Regions from separate parts of the Homo sapiens genome. Here region 2 is linked to region 1. Evidence: fine-mapped expression QTL. A gene starts in region 1. The other region holds a variant in brackets. All regions are shown on one strand. Distances are from middle to middle.

The links.
Region 2: its variant is fine-mapped to the expression of ZCRB1 in whole blood (TOPMed, PIP above 0.99).

What each region holds. Positions count from the first base shown.
Region 1 is chr12:42,321,786-42,330,124 of GRCh38, forward strand. ZCRB1 (zinc finger CCHC-type and RNA binding motif containing 1) reads right to left here and starts at 4,309. Exons shown (of 8, transcript NM_033114.4): 1 at 4,139-4,309; 2 at 2,234-2,319; 3 at 633-661. The coding sequence starts at 2,317. PPHLN1 (periphilin 1) reads left to right here and starts at 4,382. Exons shown (of 10, transcript NM_201439.2): 1 at 4,382-4,444. It overlaps MIR7851 (microRNA 7851), which reads right to left and starts at 2,074; the gene lies at 1,915-2,074. RefSeq lists an enhancer at 4,005-4,054.
Region 2 is chr12:42,591,363-42,599,701 of GRCh38, forward strand. No RefSeq gene overlaps it. Among named protein-coding and RNA genes, the nearest start is that of PRICKLE1, 5.8 kb to the left of the region's middle. The variant T/G (reference allele first, on the strand shown) is at 4,731.

The sequences.
Region 1 (8,339 bases):
CAGTATCCTGTTACTTTTTTGCCCCATAATATAGTTGCTTGATTTAAAACAGTGAAATACGAGAAGTTCAAGTTCTTTTTATTGTTCCTAACCCTCAGCCCTGTTATCATCCATTACCATTTTTGCATGTTTCTAGTCTTTCCAACGATCTCCAAGCTATCTCTGAAGGAAGATAATATGTTTTCTATTTAAAAGACTCATAGCATCCTGCAAGTCAGATGCACTGAAATATTTGTTTTTACACTATTTATATGAAAAAAAACAAAACAAAAAACCACCTATTTATTTGAAAGTAGGTTACTTATAGTATACTTGATAACACACTTCCTAGTAACCAAAATATTTGTTTACCATTAGCTATGAGGATGTATCTTTATAGCACATGGAAAGACATTTATGGTATGTCAAATTAAAAAAGAAAAGAAAATTGTATGTATGTAATAGTCTTTAAGAAAAATTGTCTACATGTTTATGTACATGGAAAACCAACTAAATTGTCATAAAAATGTTAATAGTATTTTCTTTATTATATCAAGCATGTTTTATTTTTAAAAATCTGTCATTAAAAAAATGTAGAAGCAAATTCAGATAAACTTTTAAATGAAGTTACAAAATTTAATGTGAATACTTACTTTACAACTTTGCCATACTTGGAAAATATCTGAAACAAAAGACCAAATATTTACAATTTATTTTAAAATCATAAAACATCAAATTTTTAGGTTGCAGACATTGACCAAATTCTTTGTTACAGTTTATGAATAATTTCAGCCTTCAGTCTATAAGACAGGCCCTAGGAAAAAGTTTTTTTTGGTTACTAGAATAATATACTTACTGTTGTTGGAGTCACATGTATCTGTCTGTTTCTAAATTTGACAATGGAGTAAATACAGAGAAAAAAACTCACTCTACACATGTGGTAGATCTAAGGCATACATACTGGACAGCTGCTGTGTTCCTGAGGTATACCCATGGCAACTATCAACTCCATCATAGTGCCAGATACACCTGTGCTTCAAATGTCAATCTTATGGAGCAGCACTTTTCCAATTCTACCCTCACCACTACCTTGTTATTCCTATTAAGCAATCCCTGTTTGAGAAGGCAAATCCTTAGACTGCTTTATTTAAAAAACAAAACAAAACCTCATAAAATAAGCTTTTATAATGAAAAATCCATTTCTATCAGTCTTCTTCCTCTGCCCACCATTAACATGTTGGTGGAACTTTATACTTGGCTCTCTCTTCTGTTACTTTTACTTTATCCTATGCAATCTCATTTATTTCTACAGTTCCAGCTCATTACCCATATACTAAGAGTTCCTATTATATAAAAAGTCTTTTAGAATGTGTTAGTATATGCAACCAATAATAACGAATTTTTTCGTTCTATGATTAAGCTGTATAATGCTGGAATGTAAAATAACTGGATAGCAGTGTTAGCAACACTGGGTTCTGAAGGCCAGTACAGTCTTCTATATAATACTTACTAATGGCTTCTTGTTTCATGCAGAGTGAAAGCCAGAGTCCTTACCATGATGTAAATAGGTCGTATAAGGCACCTCGAGTGGGCTTACCTAAGATTACCCCTCTTTTTCTGAAATGTTTGTCCTCTAGAATTTGCACAGGTGCCTCTTACTCGTTTCAGGTCTTTATTCAAAAGTCACCTTCTCAATAATGGCATTTCTGACCGCCCTATGTAAAATTTCACTTCCATTCCCAACTTAACGTTCAATAGCCCACCTTTCCTGCGTTATTTTTTCTCCTTAGCACCTAACATCTTAGCATCTCCTTAGTATCTAACACATAATTTGACTTAAATGTTCAATAAATATAGCTTCTATTTTTTTTTCTTTTTTTTTTTTGAGACAGGGTCTCATTCTGTCACCCAGGCTGGAGTGCAGTGGTGTGACCTTGGCTCACTGTCGCCTCGACCTCCTAGGCTCAAGCAATCTTCCAACCTCAGTCTCCCAGGTAGCTTGTAGAGGCATGGTGGCACACACCTGTATTCCCAGCTACTTGGGAGGATGAGGTGGGAGGATCACCTGAGGGGGCGGGGAGGCTGCAGTGAGCCATGATAGTGCCACTGCACTACAGCCTCGTGCCTCAGTGACAGAATTAGACTGTCTCAAAAAAAGAAAAAAAAAAAAAGGAAAAAAGAATTTGCCAGGGAGAACTATTTGCTTAAGGTTATCTGTATCTCAAATAGCAGTCACTCGATAAGATTTACTTACCCGGTACAAGTCATTGTTTGTCAGGGAAAAAGGCAAGTTGGATACATACACTGTGCTCTTACTTGGAGCCAATCCACCACTCATTTCTAAAAGTGAAAACAAACTTATCAGCAATCAGTCTAAACCAGGATTCTTTTTTTGTTGTTTGAGACGGAGTTTCCCTCTTGTTGCCCAGGCTGGGGTGCAATGGCGTGATCTCGGCTCACTGCAACCTCTGCTTCCCAGGTTCAAGCAATTATCCTGCCTCAGCCTCCCGAGTAGCTGGGATTATAGGCATCCACTACCATGCCTGGCTAATTTTGTATTTTTAGTAGAGACAGTGTTTCACCATGTTGGTCAGGCTGGTCTTGAACTCCTGACCTCAAATGATCCACCTGCCTCAGCCTCCCAAAGTGCTGGGATTACAGGCATGAATCACCACACCTGGCCTAAACCAAGTATTATTAATTCCAAATAAAACCAATACATCAGACCAGTCTGGGTATTATTTGGAAAAAAACAAAAAACAAAAACCAATAAAGTATTAACAATCACCGATTTAATTATGCCAGATGTGTACACCTTCCTTACATTTTAGGAAGTTAGGAACAATGACTCCAGCAGGCTGAATTAAGGAATTCCTTTTTCCCAGTCACCACTTAAAAAAAATTCTTTTTTGGTTCTTCTTCTTTCAAGTATTCTTTATACCAACACTTTCAGTGCCAGATTGTATGGGTAGGGAGACGGGTTTTGAACAGATGAAGGAAAAACCCTGAGGCTACTCCTAACTTCCACTCAGACCATGAGCAAAAAAAATGCTCTATTGAATATGTACTGTATATGTACATTACCTGCACCTTGCTCACCCAGGTCAGAAAGAGCATGGGGACTCAGACAGAACCTTAGCCACTGATTTTTGCTAATACACAGTCATGCTATGCTTAATGAAGGAGGTATGTTCTGAGTGTTACGTGATTTCACAGTGCAGACATCACAGGGTGTACTGAGACAAACCTAGATGGTCTAGCCTATTGCTCCTAGGCTACAACCTGTACAGCATGTTAATGTAGTGAATAATGTAGACAGTTGAAACACAATGGTAAATATTTACATAGCTAAACACAGAAAACGTACACTAAAAATATGGTACAATGTATTACACTCTTAGGAGACCACTGTGGTATATGTGGTTTGTTGTTAATCAAAAAGTTGTTATGCTGTGCATGCCTGTACTATGGCTGGGTACCTTTTTTGCTTGTCTTAATATTTTTTTTCTCTGGAGTGGTGTGTTAAGAGGAAAATTTTCTTTTCCCCTTTTAGTATGATGTTAAGGAGTAAATTTAAGCTTTATGTATCGACAATATAAACTTCTTTCGAAACGCTAATTTTGCTTATTGCCAAATTATGAAATGATACATTATATAAATAGGCTTGGTGCCTCGAAGAGACAGACCTGTAGGTATGTGTGTATATGTATATAAAGTTTACAAATGTAATCAGTAATTTTCACATCTTATCTTACAAAGTCAGCAAATTACCGTGAAAATATCAGGCTCAACCAAATTCAAATTTCTGATTTAAAAAGAGCGTGCGGTGTGTATTTGAGATGGGAAGATCAACCATCACAAATGGAAAAATACTGACTCTATGGCATGCCAATTCGTGAAGGAATGAGAAAACTGCCTCATGTTTGGTGTTATGGGGGAATTATTTAGAAAACTTCAGGAACTCAACATAGATACGTCGCTTTTTAAGTTTCTCATTTGAAACTATGCGTTACACGTTCTGCTGAGAGCCGCGAAGGCAGGCAGAGGTTAAGGTCCTGGAATAAAAAGGGTGGCGGGAGAGAGGGGCAGAGCGTTTTGGCAGCCGAGTCTGGGGAGGGGGCCCCGCAGGAGAGAAGGCCGCAGCTGAGGAGGCGTTTACCTTCAGGTGGGTTGGGCCTGGGAGACCAGAAGAGTGCGAGCCCTCGGCTCAGCTGGGGCTCAACCCCGACTCTTCGTAGCCGCTCGCAGCGGCCTTGGCATCACGAGTCCTGGGAGGGGTCAGGCGCGGAGAGCAGATAATAGCAGCCACGGTGCTTCTTCCCGACTGTTTGAGATCCGGGCCCCGAAGGCGGGCCCAGAGGCGAGCGCTTCGCTAACGTCATTGCGCGCGCCGGAAGTACCTACCTGGGATAACGGCGGCGAGCGGACGGCTGCATTTACGGGGTCTCCCGGAGGGCCAGAGTCGGTGAGCGCTTTTTACCTTTCCCAGAGATGGATGCAGAGCGTGTGCGGGCTGCTAAACGGGGGGGAGTGGGCGGGAGTTTTCTGTGTCGGGTCCTGGATTCTCCTGCCTTTGAATTGTGTGACAATTCTGCCCATGCGGTTGAGGGTGGAGAGACGCAGTGGAGTTTGGAATAAAGGGAAGTATTGAGTCTAAGATAGGGGTTCGCCTCTCTGTAGCGCCTTAATATGCAAGAAGACGACTGAGCTAGGTAACTTCAGTGACCCGAGAGGAGTCAGGAAGTCGGTAATTTTACTGAAGGTGTTCACGGTACCCAGCTATTAGGCACTTTGGGAACTACAAAATAAACAGACCTTTTATGTTTTGTTTTGTTTTGTTTTCTGGTGAAGATCTCAGTCTAGTTGGGGAGACGAGGTCAACTTGGGGAGAGTTGGATTCACAGAATGACTCATCTTTAGTATGGGTATGGACAAGTGTTGATCTTCTTGGCACCTTTTCTCTTCCTGTAAATCTATAATGGCTACGCACTGCTTTTTCTCTAAGAGGCCATAACATGCCCACCATTCCTACAGAAAAATCAGAACGTAATGCAAGGTAATTTATACTTCTGCCTACCAGCACATACAGACCAGGCCTCTAACCACTCCCTGGGAGCCTGCGTTCCAGCAGCCTGGAACCCACAGCCTCTCCTGGAGCCTGCACAATCAATCCAGAGTGAAGCCGATGTCTTCTATAGAGACGGAAGTACAATCCATCCAGGGCGCAGCTGAATTTTGAGAGGCCTGAATGCCTCCGTGGCCGACAGGAGACCGCTGGCACTAATTCTCTAGGCATACTTGTGGCCAGCCAAACTTACCATGCTTTACATCTCTGTTATCCTTGGTTACCGCCCAAGATGTAAGCTTCTGTGGTCTTCTGTGCTATAGTCTCATTTCCATGCTGCTTTGTGCTTTCTTTCGACTTAGGCTATCACTGCTTCTTCGTTTCTTCCCCATTTAACCCCTCAACACCCCATCTGTGCTTTCTGAAACCTCTATTTCCTGCTTAAACTATTTTACATATTCAACTTCTTTAGTGAAATTCTCCTTCATCTCCTAACCTTAACTATTGATAACACGTAGATTTTCCTGCCAGCCATTTCAGTTGAGCCCTTTCTCTGACCCTGCATTTAAAGGTTGGGCATGGCTGTAGCCATGTTGAACGGATTTCAATTCCTCAGAATACTTTCTTCCCTCAGTATCTTCACAAAGGCTCTTTTCTCTCTCTGGGACATTTGAGCTCCCTGTTTCCTCCTATCTTTTTCTGGATAACTTCTATTAAAGATCTGAGTTTAGCTGTCACTTTACTTGAGGGGTATACCCTAACTTCCATAGAGTTAGGTATTTTTGCTATGTACTCTTAGCTGTCCTGCACTTCCCTCACGGCATTTATCACATGTATCTTAATTGCTTCTTTGCCATCCCTACTAAGCGAGACTGTCGGTGAGGGACTGTGTTTGTCTCGTTTATCTTTGTAACTCCAGTAGCTAATACAGTTCTTGGCACATAAGACAGTCAGTTATTTCTTGAATGATTGCAGGTGCTGAAGGTATGCTGCAGAGATCAGGCAGTTAACGTTAATGAATACTTCACCCTTAGAAGGGGTCACCTGCCACTCAGCTACAGCTGATTGTGGCTATGTGAGAATATGATCCCAGTTTTGCCAGAACATCTAATTTTTTCAAAAAAAGTTGGAAATACCATTTTTTAAAAAGCATCCTCTCCCAGTTTTTAAATGTTGTCAGTGGAATAGAATTTTATTAAAAAAAAAAAAGTGGGTCAAACACAAGTCTCATATGGCCTATCAGTCACTAGTTTGGAATCTGTTTTAAGTCTTGTAGGGTTTATATAATGGGCTTTGTGGAGAATAATAGGTTTTGAGTTGGGCCTTGATGGACCGTTGGATGTTGAATGAGAGAATGGAAAAAGATATCCCGTTTGGAAAATAAACAGCTCCGTGGTAGTATGTGTTAGTCTGTTTGTGGCACAGTAAGGAAACAGGCATAATTATATGCTTTTGGAGAGAATAGAAGGTTAGATATAATAGAAGGAGGCATATGGAAGATAGAAGTTTGGATTTATTATGGTTAATAAAAAACCTCTTGGATTCTTGATCCTGGAAACTTCACATTATGAATATGCGTTAACAGTTGATTATCCTTTTTTAGGGTAAAATGGAGGGTAAAACACTGGAAGGAGGCTGACCGGTTAAGGCCTTAACTTCCATCCATATATGAAATAAAATTCAGATTTATAAATATTATATGTAGGCAGACATCTGGCATTTTTGTTTACTTGTGTAATTTCAGTTAATTGATCAATTATAATGGACAATCAGGGATCTCCTACTAAGTTTAGTGCAGTACATTCGGGCTTATAAAAGAAGTATCCTTAAAGCGTTGGAAAGTCAAGTGACTTGTGAAACTAGTAGAGAATGCAGTACTTTTTATTTTTTTATTTTTTGAGACGGTGTCTTGCTCTGTTGCCCAGGCTGGAGTGCAGTGGCACGATCATGGCTCACTGCAACCTCCATCTCCCAGGTTCAAGGGATTCTCCTGCCTCAACTTCCTGAGTAGCTGGAATTACAGGCATGTCCCACCATGCCTGGTTAATTTTTGTATATTTTTTAAGTGGAGACGGGGTATTACTATGTTGGCCAGACTGATCTTGAACTCTCAACCTCAAATGATCCGCCAGGCTCAGCCTCCCAAAATGGTGGGATTACGGGCATGAGCCACCGCACCCAGCCCCAGCATCAGTTAATTTTTTTTTTTCAATGACCTTAACTAATTATGTTCTAAAATTTATGTTTAGTTGTCTGGAATTTCAATTTTTTTTTTTTTTTGTGTGTGTGTGTGACGGAGTCTCACTCTGTCACCCAGGCTGGAGTGCAGTGGCGCGATCTTGGCTCACTGCAAGCTCCCCCTCCCGGGTTCATGCCATTCTCCTGCCTCAGCCTTCCGAGTAGCTGGGACTACAGGCGCCCACCACCGCCCCCGGCTAATTTTGTTTTTGTATTTTTAGTAGAGATGGGGTTTCACCGTGTTAGCCAGTATGGTCTCGATCTCCTGACTTCGTGATCCGCCCCCCTCGGCCTCCCAAAGTGCTGGGATTACAAGCGTGAGCCACCGCGCCCGGCCTGGAATTTCAAATATTTTCTAATAGAAACATTAGAATATTAATTCACTCTGAATACTGAGCACAGTGTGCAAATTGTTCTAGGAGCTTAATATTCATCAGTGAACAAATAGACATTCCTGCTTTTTATTATTATTAGCATTAATAATCTAAGATACTATATAGTGTACTTTTAATACAGATTAAACCCTCACTACTAGAAATACTACTAGTAGAAATATTACTAGTGAGGGACTAATGTGTATTAAAAGTACATTATGTGGTATCTTAGATTATTAGTGCTAATTAAAGATAGCACGATTGGGGGATCTGTTATAAGTGACATTAAGAAGGTGACATTGAAGGGCAGGAAAGTTAATTCCACAGATACCTGGATGAAGGGTGGCCTGCCCCTCCACACCTGTGGGTGTTTCTCGTCAGGTGGGACGAGAGACTGAGAAAAGAAATAAGACACAGAGACAAAGTATAGAGAAAGAACAGTGGGCCCAGGAGACCAACACTTAGCATATGGAGGACCTGCACCGGCACCAGTCTGTGAGTTCCCTCAGTATTTATTGTTTACTATTTGCACTGTCTCAGCAAGGGGAATGCGGCAGGAGAACAGGGTGATAGTGGGGAGAAGGTCAGCAAGAAAACGTGAGCAAAGGAATCTGTGTCACAAATAAGTTCAAGGGAAGGTACTATGCCTGGATGTGCACATAGGCCAGATTTATGCTTCTCTC
Region 2 (8,339 bases), 270 kb after region 1:
GGCTGGAGTGCAGTGGCGCGATCTCCGCTCACTGCAACCTCCGCCCCGCCCCCGTGTTGAAGCGATTCTCCTTCCTCAACCTCCCGAGTAGCTGGGATTACAGGCACCTGCCACCGCGCCCAGGTAATTTTTGTATTTTTAGTAGAGACAGTTTCCCCATGTTGGCCAGGCTGGTCTCGAACTCCTGACCTCAGGTGACGAGAATCTGGGAAAGAACAAACCAGGTTTTCTTGCCCCTCAGCATTTTATTGGAATTGGCCTTTGAAGTTGTGTCTGTTTATCTTGCTGGGGTTACAAATGCTTCTATTAAGCTATCAACTTTTAGGTTCTATCTAACCTCCAGAACTGCCAAAGAAAATTTCACTACCTCCATAGGTGAAATAAATCTTATTGCTGTACAGTGACTTCACAAAGGTTTTGTTTGTTGAGCATCTATTATGTGGAGCAGACACCCTGAGCACTGTGGATGATACATGGTCATTCCCTCTGGAGGATTACTGCCTCTTTGGACTGTGTGCTGGGCAGCATCTTTTGGATCCATTGCAAAGGTGAATACTTGGCCTTCAACCAGGACTCATAAAATTACTCCGGCCAGTGCATGTGATGGTCTGAGGTCACAACAGTCTGATTTCAAATTTCAGCCCCACCGCTTACCAAATGTAGCCTGGGGTAATGTAGTTAACCTCTCTCAGGCTTAGTTTCTCATTGGTAAGTGAGGGTAATAATATTCAGCTCAGGGAACTGTTGGGAAGATTGAATGCTGCAGAAATCACTGGAACGTTTGTATTTCATTTTATAAGGCATCTTCTCACAAGCACCCTTCTCTATAGCAGCCTCCATGCAAAATCCCACAAGTAGAAAAGAACTGTTTTTTATTTAATCTGAAAAAGCATTCTTCATTGTGAACTCTTGAATTGCTCCTGGGTCTCTTTTTCTTTTTTCTGAGTCTGTTTTATTAATGGTGTTATTTTCTTTGTCTTTACAAAGCAACATGATGTCATACCTTTTGTAAGAAATCAATTCACTTAGAGAATGTCTACTTTTCTTTTTTGAGACACCCTTGATCTGTCACCCAGTCTGGAGTGCAGTGGTGATCACAGCTCACTTCAGCCTCAAACTCCTGGGCTCAAGTGATCCTCCCGCCACAGCCTCCCGAGTAGCTGAGACTACAGGCATGCACTACCGTACGTGGCTAAGTAACTTCTTTTTATTTTATTTATTTATTTGAGATGGAGTCTTGCTCTTCGCCCAGGCTGGCGTGAAATGGCACGATCTTGGCTCACTGCAAACTCTGACCCCAGGGTTCATGCAATTCTCCTGCCTCAGCTGCCCGAGTAGCTGGGACTACAGGTGCATGCCATCACACCCAGCTAATTTTTGTATTTTTAGTACAGACGGGGTTTCGCCATGTTGGCCAGGCTGGTCTTGAACTCCTGACCTCAAGTGATCCACCTGCCTTGGCCTCCCAAAGTGCTAGGATTACAGGCATGAGCCACTGAGCCTGGCTGCAACTTCTTTTTAAAAATAACATTTTTGTGTGTTGAATTGTGTCCTCCAAAACTTCATGTTGAAGTCCTTAACTGCAGTACCTCAGAATGCAACCTTATTTGGAGATAAGGTCTTTGCAGAGTTAATCAAGTTAACATGAGGTCACTAAGTTCAGTCCTAATCCAATATGATTTTTATCCTTATAAAAAGGGGAAACTTGGGCAGGCATAGTGACTCATGCCTATACTCCCAGCACTTTGGGAGGCTGAGGTGGGAGAGTCACTTAAGCCCAGGAGTTTGAGATGAGCCTGGGCAACAGGCAACACAGGGAGATCTTGTCTCTCCAAAAAAAAAAAAAAGGAAAAAAAAGAAAGAAATCGCCAGGTGTGGTGGCATGGGCATGCACCTATGTTCCCAGCTACTGGAAGGCTGAGGCAGGACAATCACTTGAGCCCAGGACATCGAGGCTGTGGTGAGCCATTATGGTGTCCCTGCACTCTAGCCTGGGCAATACAGCGAGACCGTGTCTCAAAAAGAGGTGGGGAGCAGAATTTGGAGACAGACATGCACACAGGGAGAATACCACATAGAGGTGAAGGCGGAGATCAGGGTGATGCTTCTGCAAGCCAAGGAACATCATTGATTGCCAGCAAATTACCAGAAGCCAGGAGAGAGGCACGGAACAGATTCTTCCTCACAGCTCTCAGAAGGAACCAACCCTGCCCACACCTTGATCTCAGACTTTCCACCTGCACAACTGTAAGACAATAAATTTCAGTTGTTTCAGCCACCCAGTTTGTGGTACTTTATTATGGTAGCCCCAGCAAACTAGTACAATACCCAACCATGTCATGCTCTGAATGTGTCGTGGCTCACTAAAGAGGATTTTCATATTTAGATGAAGAATTCGTGACAGTGTGGGCCACAAGCTTGAGAATTAAGCAACAATCAGACAGTGTTGGCAGTCTTTGTTTGATTCCCAGGTCTGTTTGATTCCTAGGATTTGCTTGGCGTCTGCTCCCTGTGTCTCTTGTTCATCCACATCTGGGACTCCTTTCTTTGACTTGCAGACCCAGCCCCAACCAGTGTTTGCAGGGTGAATCAGTGTTGACCCTATAATGATCTGCAAGGGCCTGGCTGTCAGGCGTGCTCCCGGGCTGCAAATCCTACTTATGCTCTTCAGGGCTTTCAGGATAGAGTGCACACTCCTTGGATTAGTTCTAAAGGTCTTTTATATTTGCACTATGCCTATCTCTCTGGCTTATTTTTTTTTTACTACTCTCCACCCTTGTTTGCTCTAACCATATTAAGCTATTTACAGTTCTTCAAAAGCATCAGGCTGTTTTATGACTCTGTGCTTTGAAAATACCTAGAATGTTACCCACTGAAAATTGCCCTCTTTATTAGCTAACTCCTGCTTATCCTTTACCATTCGACTCAAACATCACCTTCTTGGTAGTCCATTGATGTGCATTATTTATTGTTTTGTCTGCCAAGCTTGTTTCTCCTTCTTTGTAATGCCCCCAATTTCCCTTGAGGAACCATCATCTCCCACTGTCAGTGCACATGGATTAGTTGGAGACTCATCCCTGGTTTTGGTGTTAGGATCAGGTGACCCAGACCTGGAAAATTAGAGCACTGGATCCCCTGACCAAAAGATTAGTTCAGGGATGGGCATGTGACCCAGGTCAAGTATTGGGATTTGTGCATGAGCTTTTAGTGATGCCATAACAACAACTTCAACAAGTATTTATTGATCACTTATATACCAGCCACTGCCTTGCTGGGAATTCAACAGTAAACCAAATATCCAAAGTCTCTATCTATCCTTATGGATTTTTTATTCATAGACAGGAGATATTCTCTTGTTCTTCTGTCTTTTAAACATACATCTTGGAATGCAAAGGTCTAGATTCCAGAAACTATTTTGTCACCACAGGAAGCCTGAGCATTGAGCAAGCATGAAGGAGGATAGAAGGGAGAGATGGTGAGAGAACAGGATCTGATGGCATGATTTGAGCTCCTGGATCAAACTCTACCTGAAAATGAACTACCACTAAACTTTTCAGTTAATTTAATATTTTGTTGTCATTTAAGCCAGTTTGGGGTTTAAGTGACTTACAAATTAAGGAGTACCGTTTGGTACACCCTTCCACCATTTAGAGGCTACTTTTCTCTGTTGAACCTTATACTCCTCTATCATTTTGTTTATTCGATTAGTTATTCCTTTATTCCGGAAAAGATTTATGTCCACTTACTGTTATGTACCCATAACACATAGCAAGTTAGCATAACTTGAAAGTAGATATGAAAGATGAGAAAAATAAATGAGACAAGTTCATAAAATTCATCCCATAAAGAGTGAGACACGATTTAGTTTTCAGATTTCTAGCAGCCAATGTGACGATGGTTATATAATTCCTACACAATGGAAAAGGTATCTAAATTAAAACAATCCTGTTCTTAGGAGAAGTATGACTATTAGTAAATTGAAGAGCAGAAAGAATCACCCACACCCCAGGTCCACGTGAAGAAGGCTCTAGAGAAATGATGAATAACATCCTCACAGAGCACTCACAATGTGTTTCTTGGGGATGTTTCTCAGAGCACCCATGAATTCAATGAAATTTATTTTTTAGAAGAGCAATTTAATTACTTCATTTTGTCCGGTCATGGTGGCTCACGCCTGTGATTCCAGCACTTTGGGAGGCTGAGAAGGGTGGATCACCTGAGGTCAGGAGTTCGAGACCAGCCTGGCCAACATGGTGAAACCCCGCCTCTACTAAAAATACAAAAATTAGCCAGGCATGGTGGTGAGTGTCTGTAATCCCAGCTACTTGGGAGGCTGAGGAAAGAGAAATGCTTGAGCCTGTGATGTGGAGGTTGCAGTGAGCTGAGACTGCACCACTGCACTCCAGCCTGGGAGACAGAGAGAGATGCCATCTCAACAACAACAACAACAACAACAAAAATCACTTCATTTTGTAACAGGCACTTAACAGAATATATGACAATTACAATAAAGTGAGTAGTCCGAAGTATTCTGGTATTGCATAGTTGGAGGGAATGGAGGTAGAGTGAGGGAAGACTTCTTGGAAGAAGAGGCATCTAGAAGATGAACTAACTGAGGGTAAGATGTGTGCATGTAGGTGTGTGTGCTCACGTGTCTAAGCATTTTGGGCAGAGGGAACATCATGTGTAAAGGTGAGGAGGTAAATGCAAATAGGCTGAATCTAAGGACA[T/G]GAAATATGTCCAGACTGGCTGCAGCATGGGGCACAAAAGGAGAGCAGTGAGGTGGAGGCTTGGAGGAACCTGCAGAGGAGGGCAGAGGCTGAGGCATGTAGGAGCTTAAAAGCAGGGACAAGTTTTGTGGGAGAAGATAAGGAGTTCTGTTTTGGATTATCAGAGAAAGTAATCTGCAAAACTGGCTAAAAGAAGAAGCCAGAGAGATAGGAAGGAGATAGTGAGAAAGTGTTGAATGAATACCAAAGACGAGGGCATTTCAGGAAGAGAGCAGTACCTACCCTCAGCTAAGTTTTAAGCTCCCCAGAGCAAACTGTGCTTCATGCAGCCCTAGAGTCCCACCACTAAGAGGTTTAAAGGAGGCCCTCGAAGGGTCTGATGGGTGGGCTTTGGGGATCCCAGGAGGATTCAGCAGTTTATAATAGTTCTGTAAAGCAGACCAAGCTGATCTGCACTTCCTTCAGGCAATCCTCCACAAATATGCTTTCACCAGGCTTTTGGGAGTATGGCCAGCAGCGATTTTGAGATTATAATCCTTGGGCAATACTCAACTATTCCGTGTTGTTCATTAAAAAATGAATTATATATTTTCACAGTCAACTGAGCTGAATTGATAATTTCATAAAAAGCTGAGTTTACTTAGTACATATGCAAGAATTGAAGGCCATTTCCCCTCTGCTCAAAGATGAGCGGAAGGAGGACATTGGGTCAGAGTTCATTCCTTTGTCACAGCAATCTTTATCATCTTTAATTTGCTGCCTTTTCCATTAGTTTGTTCCTTGAGGGCAGAATGCTGCCTAATTCAATGTTGCGACTCCAGTGCCTGGCACAGTAACTAGAACAGAGTAGGTGCTCAGTATCCACTGAAAGATAAATAGATACTGGGACCTTAATGGAGAGCTGGTGGGGAGAAGGGAGTGAGGTGGGGGCAGGTAGGGCTGGCCAGCCCATACCCTAAGGTGATCCAGCCAAGCCTAGTGTGGTTCACAGTGTGAAGGAGATCGGGGCCATATATTTGGGCAGTAGAGTCAGCACTAGGACGGGGAGGCGGTGAACTAGGTGAAGCAGCAATTAGGGGAGTCTAACCTCCCAGGAAGAGGAAATGTCAGGTTGTTATGGTTCAACCAATGGAGCTAAGGTTCAAGTGTGGACCACAGTGCCAGTGGCCAAATTAGGAAGCAATGTGGAATCCAATGGTGTTTACATGTGATGGAGGCACAGCTGTGGCTTGAAGGAGCTCCACAGCACATACCCAACTTCTGGAAACAAGATTAATTTCAGACCTCTACCAGAAAAATGGAAGGGCTGAGACTGGAAAATAGATTGGTGGTTGGTTTATTTTGGTTCTCTGACTCTGGCTTTCTTGTTTATACTTCAAACCCACAATATGAAATATGATTTCACATACCTGTGAGTTTGAGAAAGAGAGAGGAAAAGGAGAAATAAATGTCCTTTTTGCTCAAAGCTACTAATCTAATTTTATTTCAGATCTTCTTGGTGCAATGTAGAGACACTCAAGACTAATTTATTTACTTCAGGAGCTTACAAAAACAAGATTGAGTGACATGCTGGCTTCTAATGTTCTTTTGGGAAATATCTTGGGTTAAATGGTGCTTTCATTTTCTATTTTTTCATATAAAAAGAACTCTGGGACTTGTAGTTGAGTGACTGAAGGAGGACTAAAATCAATCCTCTACCTCTGAAAGTTGAGATCTTAGATTTTACTATATATTCTCTCATTCCTATAAAAAGTAGCAGCTCCTGCTGCAGAATGTTGCTTATTCTGCTACTTTTGACCCCAGGCCTGAAGAACTCCTATAGATAGCACGTGAAGTTCCATAAATATCTTCAAGTATGACCTACAATGACTACATTAGCTTTTCCTCTCACTAGTGCTGTTGCTGGGGCAGAAGTTCCCAGAGGTCTGAGTTTAAAGAATTCCACCCCTCCTAGGCACACTCGTACCACCAACCACAACTCCCAGCCCGAGCTCAGGATCTGTGGGGCATTAAAGTAAAACAAAACTCAAGAAAGCATAAGAAAAAACGTGACATGTTCAATAGTGGTTATGGGTTGTAAGTATCAAAAACTTTCAAATAGAGATGACTACATTTACACTCCATTTTCTTCTGGAAAAATTATTGGTTTTGCTCACCAACTCTGAAAATCCAGATATAGCAGTAGATGCTAGGAAGGAGTTAGGAGCAACTTGAAGCAGCTCTCATTTTTGAGCTCCTGGGAACTGGTTCCCAGGCCAGCACCTCCGCCACCAGGATGTGGCTTTCTGGTGAATGAGAGCCACCGATGGGCCTAGAAATTAGTCTTTTATGTTAGTGTGCTAACCATGTGACTAGAACACATTCTCCTCTACATTAGTGTCCTAAAGCATTAGCAAAATAATATGTCACTCATGATGCGACTGAGTGAAATGTATAAAGGAAATTGGTTTACTAAACCCATTAGGTTAAAAGGCAAATGGGAGACTAAAACAATAATCAAATGACAATATTTTAATTTTTAGGATTAGTTATCTGACAGGAAATTTCTCTTTTAATTTAATTTCTACATTTTAAAACAATGAAGTTTAAGGAGCCTTAGAGAGAAACACACAAATCAGCACACTTAGTCCTTTTTATAGAGTTTCAGGGTTCCAACCCACTCTTGCTAAAAAGTACTATTTCAGCCACCAAAACAGAATAATTCAATATGAGAAAAAAAAAAAAAAAAAAAAGCCCATGGAGATAAGGAGCTAAAATGAAGTCAAAGAATCGGGAATAAATTTTCCCCAAATGAATGACTCAAGATGTGAGATCCCAGCCTATACTTCTGCCTGGCACTTGAACTCCTACATTTGCAAGTTGTATGAAATCTCCTCTAATCTAGAATTGGAATTTGCCTGTAAGCAGCTATAGTTTTCTTATTCTTACTGTCTGGTTAAATAGGTTAAAGCAGGCAGGCAAGCCTGTCAGCAGGGCCTGAGAGAAACAAGAATGTAGTGGGAATCAGGAGAGATGTGTGAGTGACAGTGTTAGGGGGAAAAGGAAGAGAAAGGAGAGGTAACTCTCAAAACACAGCCAGAGGAAACGAAGCTCTTGTTACAATCATGGCAGAAAGGTCTTGATACTGTTTTTCCCCAGAACTGAGGTGGATGCTCTATGGAAGCACCCTCCATAGAGGCAAAGTTGTTGAAAACTGATCTAAGTCATATGATTTTACGTAGTGCAACTGCCCATCAATGGATTCAGGACTGGCACTTGGCAAGTTTTTTATTATTATTATGAATATTATTTTTATTAGAGTACTAAGGGTTAATAACAGAAGACTACATTTTCTTCTCACTTTTTAAATTAGAGGCTGACATTGATTTAAAATGTCTAACAGAAAGCCATGGCTTATTCCTCACTGATTTATGAGCATCAAAGGATGGGGAAGCTAGCCGCATTCTTGTCATTTCAGTGGTTCATTCTCTCCTTATTCTGAGTGAGGTCTTCTAGTATATTGGTTATGTGGCGTCTAAGTTTTGATCATCTCTACCGTTCACCTGGCACTTTGCACATCTGCTCACAATACTTGGCATGTTTTCAGTGTGTTTTAAAGCTCTGATTAGG